2 separate regions of the Homo sapiens genome follow, and region 1 is linked to region 2. Evidence: fine-mapped expression QTL. Tissue or cell type: cerebellum. Region 2 holds a variant in brackets; the other region holds the start of a gene. All regions are shown on one strand. Distances are between the middles of the regions.

Region 1 (5,308 bases), 47 kb after region 2:
ATAAAATTATATTGATAAAGTTTTTTCATTTTTAAAATGTAACAGGTGTGCAGAATAATTTATTTTTCCTAAGTAAACTATTTGACTCAAAAAGTTAAATTCGATTCTAGATATTAGCCTCAATGTGAGGCTAAATCTCTTGCAAATTCCTGAGTCTTCTTTTCAAAGCATTCTTAATGAAGACAGTTAGTGTTAATTATGTTGTCATTTAAAAAATCCATGTCCACAACAGCTGTATTTTACTCCTTAACCTTGGGAAAATTATTTAATCTCATTAAGCTTCAGTTTCCTCATCTTTTAAATGGGAAGAATAATAAAACTAGTTCAAAAGGCTGTTAAGAGGATCAACTGTAACGATGCATGTAAAATACTTAATGTAGTCTGTGGTACATAATAAGTACTCAGTAATTATTACCTATTATTTTGCTTGTATTTTCACTATTGTTTTACTAATTTTAACATTTCTCAACATTATCTCTAGCTTTTGAAATATATTGCTTGAAAATTGCTTTAGTAGAGCACATTCTTCCCAGTTCTTATGGGAAGAAATGTGTTTAGCTCCCATAACAATTAATCTTCTCTTTTTTGCTATGTAACACAAATAAAATCAAAAGTGAAGTATATTTAAATTTCTGTATTTAATATGCATGAGTTAGCTAACATTTATTTGGCTTACTTATTTACTTACTTTATTTACTTATTAGCTAAGTTAGCTATACTTAACAACAAATACATATTTGAAATGGTTGTGCCTTAAGATAATTCTGAAATGATTGCATGTTGTCAGAAAAGGGTTCCAACAATTAAATTTATGAAGCACTGTTTTCCCACAGAATGAAAGTAAGCTCATATATTCACACTGTAGTGTATAATGGTAGATTTAAAAATAGCCTCAAAGTGCAACTTTTGAAAAAACTAATTGGATTAATACATTAAAAATACCTTAGATAAATAAAACATACACTAACTTAAATGCAAAATTTGAGGATAGATCTTTTGAATTAGCTTAAAATCAGTTGCCTTGATTTCAGTGAAGAGAATTACTGAGGCAGAAGGTAAATTCTTAAATTCTTAGTGTTTTCTGAAGCTATAAGAAGAAGCTAGCTGTACAGTACCTTGATCAAGTTGTGTCCCACAGTGTAGACAGCTGCTAAATTTCCCTTCTCTCCAGGGGCATGCATACCTGTCCCATACCCATGCCAAGCCACTAGATATGGGTTGTGAATTGTAATCCAATATTTGACACGGTCCCCAAACATCTGGAAACAGTATGTGGCATAGTCATTGAAGATATCTATTATGGTATCATTTTTCCACCCCCCATATTTTTCTTGTAGTGCCAAAGGCAAATCCCAGTGGTATAAAGTAACTATAGGTTCAATGTTTCTAAGCACTAGAGCGTCCAGAAGAGTACTGTAGTACTGCAGACCTTTTGCGTTGGCAACTGTTACTATTCCATCGGGGAAAAGCCTTGGCCAGGAAATTGAAAATTGATAAAAAGAAACTCCTATAAAATCCAGGGCTGATAAGTCTTTTTCCAGAAAAATATAACTGTCACTGGAACCATTCGTGCTGCTGACATTTTTAAGGTGTGTGTGGATGAAATGATCCCATATAGAAGGTCCTTTTCCATCCTTCTTCCAACTCCCTTCCACTTGCAATGCTCCAGTCCCAATACCCCAGAAAAAGTTTTTAGGGAAAGTGTCATAGAGAAACAGCTGACTTTCATTTACCGGAGTAAAATTAGGATTTTTAGACCATATAGCTCTTCCATCTCCAGAGAATCCAGTAACAGCTCGTAGCAGAATAAGTGCTGACAGGATGACAGATCTTTGCAATCCCCCGTTGGACATTGTATTCCTATAGCGTGTGGTTATTTCATCAGTGCTGAAGAAAATCCATTCATTCCCTGGAGATCCTGCCGCACAGCCTGGCTTCATTTGCCACCAACTGCTGGACTGTCTTATCAAAGCTTCAGTAAAAGCTTGTGATTGTAAAGCTCTGTCAATGATTAGCTTGAACTGGGAGACTGAGGATGGGTCATAGAGAGCAACGTAATTTGAGGGAGGTGGCCCTATTGCAGTCACCAACGCGTCTCCTTCTCTCTCATTATGGAAAAAATTAGATGAAAATGCATCGGTGACAAGAGTTTGAATGTGTAACTAACACATATGTAAACACTGGATTAAAATCACATTATTTTCCGTGTAGCCTTTCATATTGACCCAAATCTTTTCTGAATGTTTTGAACATTATTGAATAAGGTATATAGCTTTTCTATTTTTAGAGTTTTTGTGTGGTAATTTTATAATCTCATATATCAAGAAAAATAACATATACAAGTATATAGCATTCCTACATACCAATAGTAAAGAATTAGAAAACACAATAAGAAATTACACTTCTCCACAAAATTATAACGCATCTAAGAACAATCTTAATAAATGTTACCTATTTTAGGAAAATTGCAAAAATGTATTGGTAGATTTGAGAGAAGACTTGAATGAGAAAATATAGCACTTTGTGGATGGAAAAATGAAATACTTTTCAATTTAATACATTTAACTTAACTAAAATCCTCTAATCTCTAATTTTATTTTTTATTTTATTTATTTAACTTAACTAAAATTCTCTAATCTCTAATTTTTTAATTAATTAATTAATTTTTAATAAGAGTCTTGCTTTGTAGCCTAGGCTGGAGTGCAGTGGTGTCATCACAGCTCACCGCAGCCTCAACTTCCCAGGCTTAAGCAATCCTCCCTCCTCAGCCTCCAAGTAGCTGGGACAACAGGCACATGCCACCATGCCCAGCTGATTTTTGATTTTTTGGTAGAGGTGGGGTCTAGCTATGTCCCCCAGGCTGGTCCTGAACTCCTGGGCTCAAACAGCCCTTCTGCCTCGGCCTCCTAAAGTGCTTGGGATTATAGGTGTGAGCCACCATGCCTGGCCTAATCCCAAATTTTAGTTCAAGAAAATTATTACGAAAGGCCAGGCACAGTGATTCATGGCTATAATCCCACCACTTTGGGAGGCCAAGGCAGGCAGATCACTTGGGGTCAGGAGTTTGAGACCAGCCTAGCCAACATGTTGAAACCCCGTCTCTATTAAAAATACAATTAGCTGGGCACGGTGGTGGGCACCTGTAATCCCAGCTACCTGGGAGGCTGAGGCAGGAGAATCTCTTGAACCTGGGACGTGGAGGTTGTAGTGAGCTGAGATCGCACCACCGCACTCCAGCCTGGGCAACAGAGCAAGACTCGGTCTCAAAATAAAAAAAAAAAAAAAAAGAGAAAATTATTATGAAAGTTCCCTTGAAGAATAGGCAATATTTATTTTTAAAAAGGAAAGAAAAACCTGAAAAAGAAAATAGCAAAGGCATAGACTACCTTCAGCATGATTCTGGAATAAAGATAAACATACAGAAAGAAATACATGCACATACAGAAAGAAATATTGTACCAAATCGATAGCCTCCAAATAACCTGTAAAAAATTTAATGTTTTACAGCCTGGGGAACATAATAAGGCCCCATCTCTACAAAAAAAATTAAAAACTAACCGGGTGTGGTTGTGCATGCCTGTAGTCCCAGCACTTTAGAAGGCCAAGGTGGGAGGATTGCTTTGAGCCCAAGAGGTCAAGACTGTAGTGAGCCATGATTGCACCACTGCACTCCAGCCTGGGTGACAGAATGAGACTCTGTCTCAAAAAATAATAAATAAATAAATAAATAAATGTTTTAAATATTTGAAGTATCACATATGAATGAGAAGCAGAGTGGTTAATAGTTTGGTCTCTGTGCCAGATGAGGTGGCTCACACCTATAATCCCAGCTACTTAGGAGGCTAAGTGGGGAGGACTGCTTGAGGCCAGGAGTTTTGAGACCAGCCTGGGCAATATAGTGAGACTATCCTCACCTCTAAAAAAAGATGATTGAGGCCCGGCACAGTGGTTCGCACCTGTAATCCCAGCACTTTGGGAGTCCGAGGCGGCTGGATCACCTGAGATCAGGAGTTCGAGACCAGCCTGACCAACATGGTGAAACCCCATCTCTACTAAAAATACAAAATTAGCTGGGCATGGTGGCACATGCCTGTAATCCCAGTTACTCGGGAGGCTGAGGCAGAAGAATTGCCTGATCCCGGGAGGTGGAGGTTGCAGTGAGCCGAGATCGCGCCATTGCACTCCAGCCTAGGCAACAAGAGCAAAACTCTGTCTAAAAAAAAAAAAAAAAAAAAAAAAAAAAAAAAAAAAAAAAGAGAGATTGAGCCTCTAGAGGCAGACTGCCTGAGTTTAAATATAGCTGTGTAACTTGCCCTCAGTTTCCTCTTTAAGAAAAGGCATAATAATAATATGCACTTCATGGATTATTGTGAGAATTAAACGAGTTAATACACTGAACCAAATGGTTTTCTCTGGAATATAGAAACGAATGAGCCAGTACATGTAAGGCACTTGGAACAGAGACTGACACATAGTAAGTTATGTGCTAATATTATTTTTGTGTGAAAGGGAAAGATTATTCAGGACATGATGCCAGGATTTAGCATAAAAGACAATTTGTTCTGGCTCCTGCCCACATTTTTAGCTTCACTTCTCTCAGTTGACTAAGGGGTACACAGCCTGCTAACTTGTAGCCCTGTACCTTGGTATGTGTGCTCTCTGCACAGAGTATGTTTCTCCCTTCATCTAGCTCATGTCTATCTTTTTTTTTTTTTTTTTTTGAGACGGAGTCTCACTCTGTCTGCCAGGCTGGAGTGCAGTGGCGGGATCTCGGCTCACTGCAAGCTCCGCCTCCCAGGTTCACTCCATTCTCCTGCCTCAGCCTCCTGAGTAGCTGGGACTACCGGCGCCCGCCACCACGCCTGGCTAGTTTTTTGTATTTTTAGTAGAGACGGGGTTTCACCGTGTTAGCCAGGATGGTCTCGATCTCCTAACCTCGTGATCCGACCGTCTCGGCCTCCCAAAGTGCTGGGATTACAGGCGTGAGCCACAGCGCCCGGCCGTCTTTTTTTTTTTTTTTTTTTTTTTAACTTTTAAGTTCAGGGACACGTGCAAGTTTGTTACATACGTAAACTTGTGTTATGGGTGTTTGCTGTATGGATTATTTCAGCAGGCAGGTATTAAGCCTAGTACTCATTAGTTTTTTTTTCCTGATCCTCTCCTTCTTCCGACCCTCCACCCTCTGATAGGCCCCAGTGTGTTATTTCCCTCTATGTGTCCAGGTGTTCTCATCATTTAGCTCCCACTTATAAGTGAGAACCTGCGGTATTTGGTCTTCTGTTCCTGCATTAGTAAGGCCTTTCTGACT
Region 2 (5,191 bases):
AAAACCAGATTTGTTTTAGAATTATCTCTTGATTACACTTAAACTGTTGGTGCTACTTAAGGGTTTATATCATTATGTCGATTACAATTTCAGAAAGTTGATACATTGGAGTAGCTTGCAGTGGTGGTTGTATTTAACTTGGCAAATGAAATCTTTTAAAAAGACTTTAAATTTACAAAAGGTGTATATAATGGTGTGTATTTATGGAGCACAATGTGATGTTTCAACACATGCATATTCTGTGGAATGACTAAATCAGGCTAATTAACACATCCATCACTCCATTTATTTCTTCGTGGTAAGAACCTTTAAAATCTAAAGAGAAAACTACATGAGTAGTGGTTAATAGCCTAGCGTAAATTTCAGCTCTCACTGTCCACCTTGGGCATGTCATCTCTCTGCAGCTTAAAATTGCAAACATCTTTGATTAAATGAGTTAAAGTTGAAAAACAACAATGCATGCGTAATACATAGTAAACACAGTAGCTTTAAAAAAAATTTAAAGCTTAGTGCTTTTTATTTGAGGCAGGGTCTTGCTCTGTTGCCCAGGCTGGAGTACGGTGGCGTGATCTCAGCTCATTGCATCCTCCACCTTCGTGCTCAGGTGTTTCTCCCACCTCAGCCTCCCCACTAGCTGGCACTGCAGGTGCCTGCCACCACATCCAGCTGATTTTTGATTTTTTGTAGAGACTGTTTCGCCACGTTGCCCAGGCTGATTTCAAGGAATGCTATGGTGCCTGGCCCCAGCTAATTTTTAAGTTTTTTGTAGAGGCAGGGTCTTGCTATGTTGTCCAGGCTGGTCTTGAACTTGCAGGCTCAAGCAGTTCTTCCCCCTTGGCCTCTTAAAACATACCTGGCTCGGCCTCTTGATGCATTTTGATTCCATTGGGGTGGGGAGGGGTGGGAAGAAGGGAGATTCTTAGTATCAAAATAATGGCTGTCCAGAAATACTCTGATACTAGCTATGGTCAGCAACATTTAATGAAAACCCTTATGTTAAAAATAAACCCCTGCCTCCTGGCTTCAAGCGATTCTCCTGCCTCAGCCTCCTGAGTAGCTGGGAGTATAGGCACGTACCACCACACCCAGCTAATTTTTTGTATTTTTACTAGAGATGGGTTTCACAGTGTTAGCCAGGATGGTTTCGATCTCCTGACCTCATGATCCGCCCGCCTCGGCCTCCCAAAGTGCTGAGATTACAGGCGTGAGCCACTGTGCCCGGCCTCAAAATCTTAAGAAAAGGTTCTTTTGGTGCATGGAGTTTTACATGGAATAAATTAGTGCCTCTGCAATTTAAATATTTTTTACACAGATTTGATGCTGTGCAAATGCCCTCTCCCCTTTTAGGTGTTGCTTGTTCAGTATCTCAAGCCCAGAAAGATGAATTAATCCTTGAAGGAAATGACATTGAGCTTGTTTCAAATTCAGGTTTGTATGTTTACTATGTCTAACTATGCCTACAAGATTTTGTCTAAATCTTGTTTAAAATACAGTATTTTGCTAATTTTTATTTGATTAGCTTTTTAAATTGTGAAAATAAAAAGGTCACATTCTGAAATTTTAAGTACAGCACATAATGAAATACTTTCTTTTTAAGATGGGTTAGGCTGATGTATTAATTGCTTTATCTTCACTCCTATAGCGGCTTTGATTCAGCAAGCCACAACAGTTAAAAACAAGGATATCAGGAAATTTTTGGATGGTATCTATGTCTCTGAAAAAGGAACTGTTCAGCAGGCTGATGAATAAGATCTAAGAGGTAAGTTCTTACAGTGTCTTAAGTTTTATTACTGCTCTAGTTGAATGAAGCTCTTAATTTACTAAAAGACTTAAACTGAATTTGTAGTAATAGAAAATGGAGAGTTAAGCATTCTGGAACACAGTAAATTTGACAGAATAAAAGATGGAATTGGCATGCATTTTACTACGTATAGTTTACTATGAATCAGTAAGTCATAGTCTTGAGGTATGTTTTAGATTATTTAGAATAGTACAGAAAAAAGATTAGTACTTTCCTGGGCAAGTGTATTGATGGGGATTTACAGATTTTTTTTCTTTTTTTACAGTTACCTGGCTACAGAAAGAAGATGCCAGATGACACTTAAGACCTACTTGTGATATTTAAATGATGCAATAAAAGACCTATTGATTTGGACCTTCTTCTTAAAC[C/T]GGTTATCCTTTTTAGCTAGTTTTTTTCCCTCGTGGAACAAGGAGCTTTAATCTGGTTCTTGAAGGAATAGCAAGGATATATTTTAGGCAAGAGGAATATTGTACCAGTGACAGGCAAACATGAGGCCATTCATCATTGCATATAGAACTTTAGGAATACCCTGAAAGTGTCTAAATTTGCTGAGGCATGAATTTGAATATTTGGTAAGGCAAATGTTGTCTTAGTCACTGGTGGAGAAACAGCTGAGGAGTAGAACAGAGTGATACAGCATCAGTTAGAATTAGAAGGTGTAGTTGGTTTGGTTCATGGTCTCAATAATCTTGTCCTTTACCTCAGCCATTTACTTCCATACCCTAGAACTTGTTTTTAAAAATTGATAACCCTTCCATAATCTCTTAATTCCATGTGTTATACTTTAAATATGGTACAAGGCCACCATAACTAGACTTAGGTCAACATGGTGACCCCCAAACCTTTGTGAATTCTACATCTCATTTGATGGAAACTGCAATTTCTAAGGCAAAATTTAACATTCATCCTTGATCAAATGCGTCAGGAAAACGTACTAAGTACCTTCATTGTAAGGTATGGTCAGGTACTTTATCAGAAAAAGTAAATATAAGGACAGAGGTCACGATCAGTTGGCATATATGTTATCTTGGATCTTACAATGTCTTACTCAGTTGCCCAGGCTGGAATACAGTGCCATAGTCATAGCTCTGTAACTTCAACCTACTGGACTCAAGCAATAATCCTACCTGCTTCAGCCTCCTTAGTAGCAAGGACTACAGGCAGGCACCGTCACATCTTTTTTTTTTTTTTTTTAAAGTATGGATGGGGTCTCATGTTTCCCAGGCTGGTCTTGAACTCCTGGCCTTAAGTGTTCCTCTTTGGCCTCCCAGAGGGCTGGAACTACAGGCATGGGTCACCATGCCCTATACGTCTTAGATCTGGATTCAAGTACACTAATTGAACATACATTAAGGAGTCTTGTTGTTTGATGACTATTTGGTTAGGTTTTTAAGAAATTTGGAGGAAATCATAAATCTCGGATTTGCTCAGAAATAACGGATGGGGTTGTAGGCGATGAATGGGATCAACGTGAAGTAAGATCACATCCTCGAAAGGTTGGGAAATATGGGTCCATTAGATACAAATTTTTTACAATGTAGAAAATGAAACAAAGACCTGCGAAGTTCACCTGGATTATTGTGACAGTCAACTGGTCATCTTCCTCTCCTGTCTATTTTCAGCATCAGCCAGGGTACTGATTTTGAAATGGATTATAGCACTGTTTCAAATCCTGCAACAGGTTTTTTTTCCCTTTTTTCTTTTTAAAATAGCCTCCCCATTGTACCTGCAGCCGTTTTTAACTCAATTTTTCTGACTTCTGCGCTATAGCTGAATTGACCTGGCTAATCCTCTATACCAAGCACTCTGTCATTAAGCATTTAAGTTGTCGTTTTCCCTTTGGAATGCTCTCAGCTGAGCTGTGTGGCTAATTTCACTTACCTTCAGGTCTATTCAGTGAATCCTGCCTTGACCACCGTATTAAAAATAGTAGACCGGCTCCTTAAGCTTGTCCTACTGTCTCGTTACCCTTCTCCACTTGTTTTTGTCAATAGCATTTGTAATTTTAATATTTACAATTGGTTGTGTATTGATGATGTGTTTTTTTCTGCTAGGATGTAACCTTCACAAGGAGGTAATTTTGTACTCTGGTGTATTCCAGCTACCAGAACAATGGCATGTAGCTGTTTCCTGGATTGCCAAGGAACTCAGTAATAGCAGTGGGACTGGAAGAGAGAGATTTTGGGAAGGTATTGACAGGATTTCAAAACAGTATGAGGCTTGTGGGAGAAATTTCCAAGTGGCAATATTCTAGTGGGGTGGAGATGCTCATGAGAGGATCAGCTTATGGGGAGTAGCTGCTGTGGGAGTAAATGAGATTTCTTTGAGCATGAAATGGACTGGCATGCTGGGTCTGACCTTCATAAGGTAACTTAAGAGACTGTAGCTAAACAGTGATTTTTTTTTTTTAATAACTTGGGTATAACAAATGAGCCTAGTTCTCCAGGGAAAACTTAATTATTGTCTTCTGTGTCTACTATGGATAAGCACTTGTGCACTATTTTTGCAATTTTTAGATGTAGGTGTCCACATATTTTTGAGACGGGGTCTCTGTCACCCAGGTTGGAGTGCAGTGGCGTGATCTTGGTTCACTGCAACCTCTGTCTCCCAGGCTCAAGCAGTCCTCCCACCTCAGCCTTCTGTGTAGCTGGGACCACAAATACGTGCCACCATGCCTGGCTAGTTTTTTGTAGAGAGGGTTTTGCCACGTTGCCCAAGCTGGTCTCAAACTCCTGGAATCAAGCAATCCGCCCACCTTGGCCTCCCGAAGTGCTGGGGTTACAGGTGTGAGCCACCACACCTGAGCCACATTTTTTGAGAAAATATACCCAGAAGTAACATACCAAGTTGGTGCACAACTAGGCAGAAAGGGATTCAGGGGAGGCAGTCTTGGGGCAGAGCCCATTTACAATGCCAAACCCATTCACATTCAACAGTTCTTAAAATTGACCAGGTTGTTAGTTGAATACAAGTGGTCAGCATGAACCAGTTTATTTGGAATAAATTACATTGAAAATTAAACATGTAGTCACACTGTACTGGCCTCATTTTCCAGAGGCTCTTTAAATATAGTTGTGATTCTCCAGGTTGTTACATTGAATATACGATAAACACGTTAGATTTTTCACAACACATCTCAGAAAAGCTTAAACTCCAAAGATCTTACCTGTTTGCTCCTTTCAAGAGTTATCAGTTTCTGGTTGACCTTTGATGGTTTTTAAGGAGTTTATGATAAACCTGAATATTTAGTATGATAGAGCATGAGCCAGATTAAATGCTTAACCTAATTTGCTGTACATATTTGCCAGTGGTTAAAAAATTTAAGGGTTTTTGGATTCTTGTGCGATGATGGCTTAAAAACTAGTAAAATAATGCCCAAGTGGCAGAGAA

Direction of the effects. Positions count from the first base shown, and alleles are read on the strand shown. Sizes are in standard deviations (SD) of each study's normalised expression.
In carriers of allele T in region 2, the expression in cerebellum of the gene that starts at base 1,960 in region 1 tends to be lower than with C alone (large effect, 1.2 SD a copy in GTEx).

The links. PIP is the estimated chance that this variant, and not a neighbour inherited with it, causes the effect.
Region 1: it holds the start of KLB, and the variant in region 2 is fine-mapped to the expression of KLB in cerebellum (GTEx, PIP above 0.99). The same link has a PIP of 0.9 or more in cerebellar hemisphere, cerebral cortex, nucleus accumbens, prefrontal cortex and substantia nigra.

The regions. Positions count from the first base shown.
Region 1 is chr4:39,403,582-39,408,889 of GRCh38, reverse strand. It overlaps KLB (klotho beta), which reads right to left and starts at 1,960. Exons shown (of 5, transcript NM_175737.4): 1 at 1,116-1,960. The coding sequence starts at 1,940.
Region 2 is chr4:39,451,101-39,456,291 of GRCh38, reverse strand. It overlaps KLB (klotho beta), which reads right to left. Exons shown (of 5, transcript NM_175737.4): 5 at 4,759-5,191. RPL9 (ribosomal protein L9) reads left to right here. Exons shown (of 8, transcript NM_000661.5): 6 at 1,348-1,428; 7 at 1,643-1,759; 8 at 2,067-2,168. The coding sequence ends at 1,749. Among named protein-coding and RNA genes, the nearest start is that of RPL9, 5.2 kb to the left of the region's middle. The variant C/T (reference allele first, on the strand shown) is at 2,170.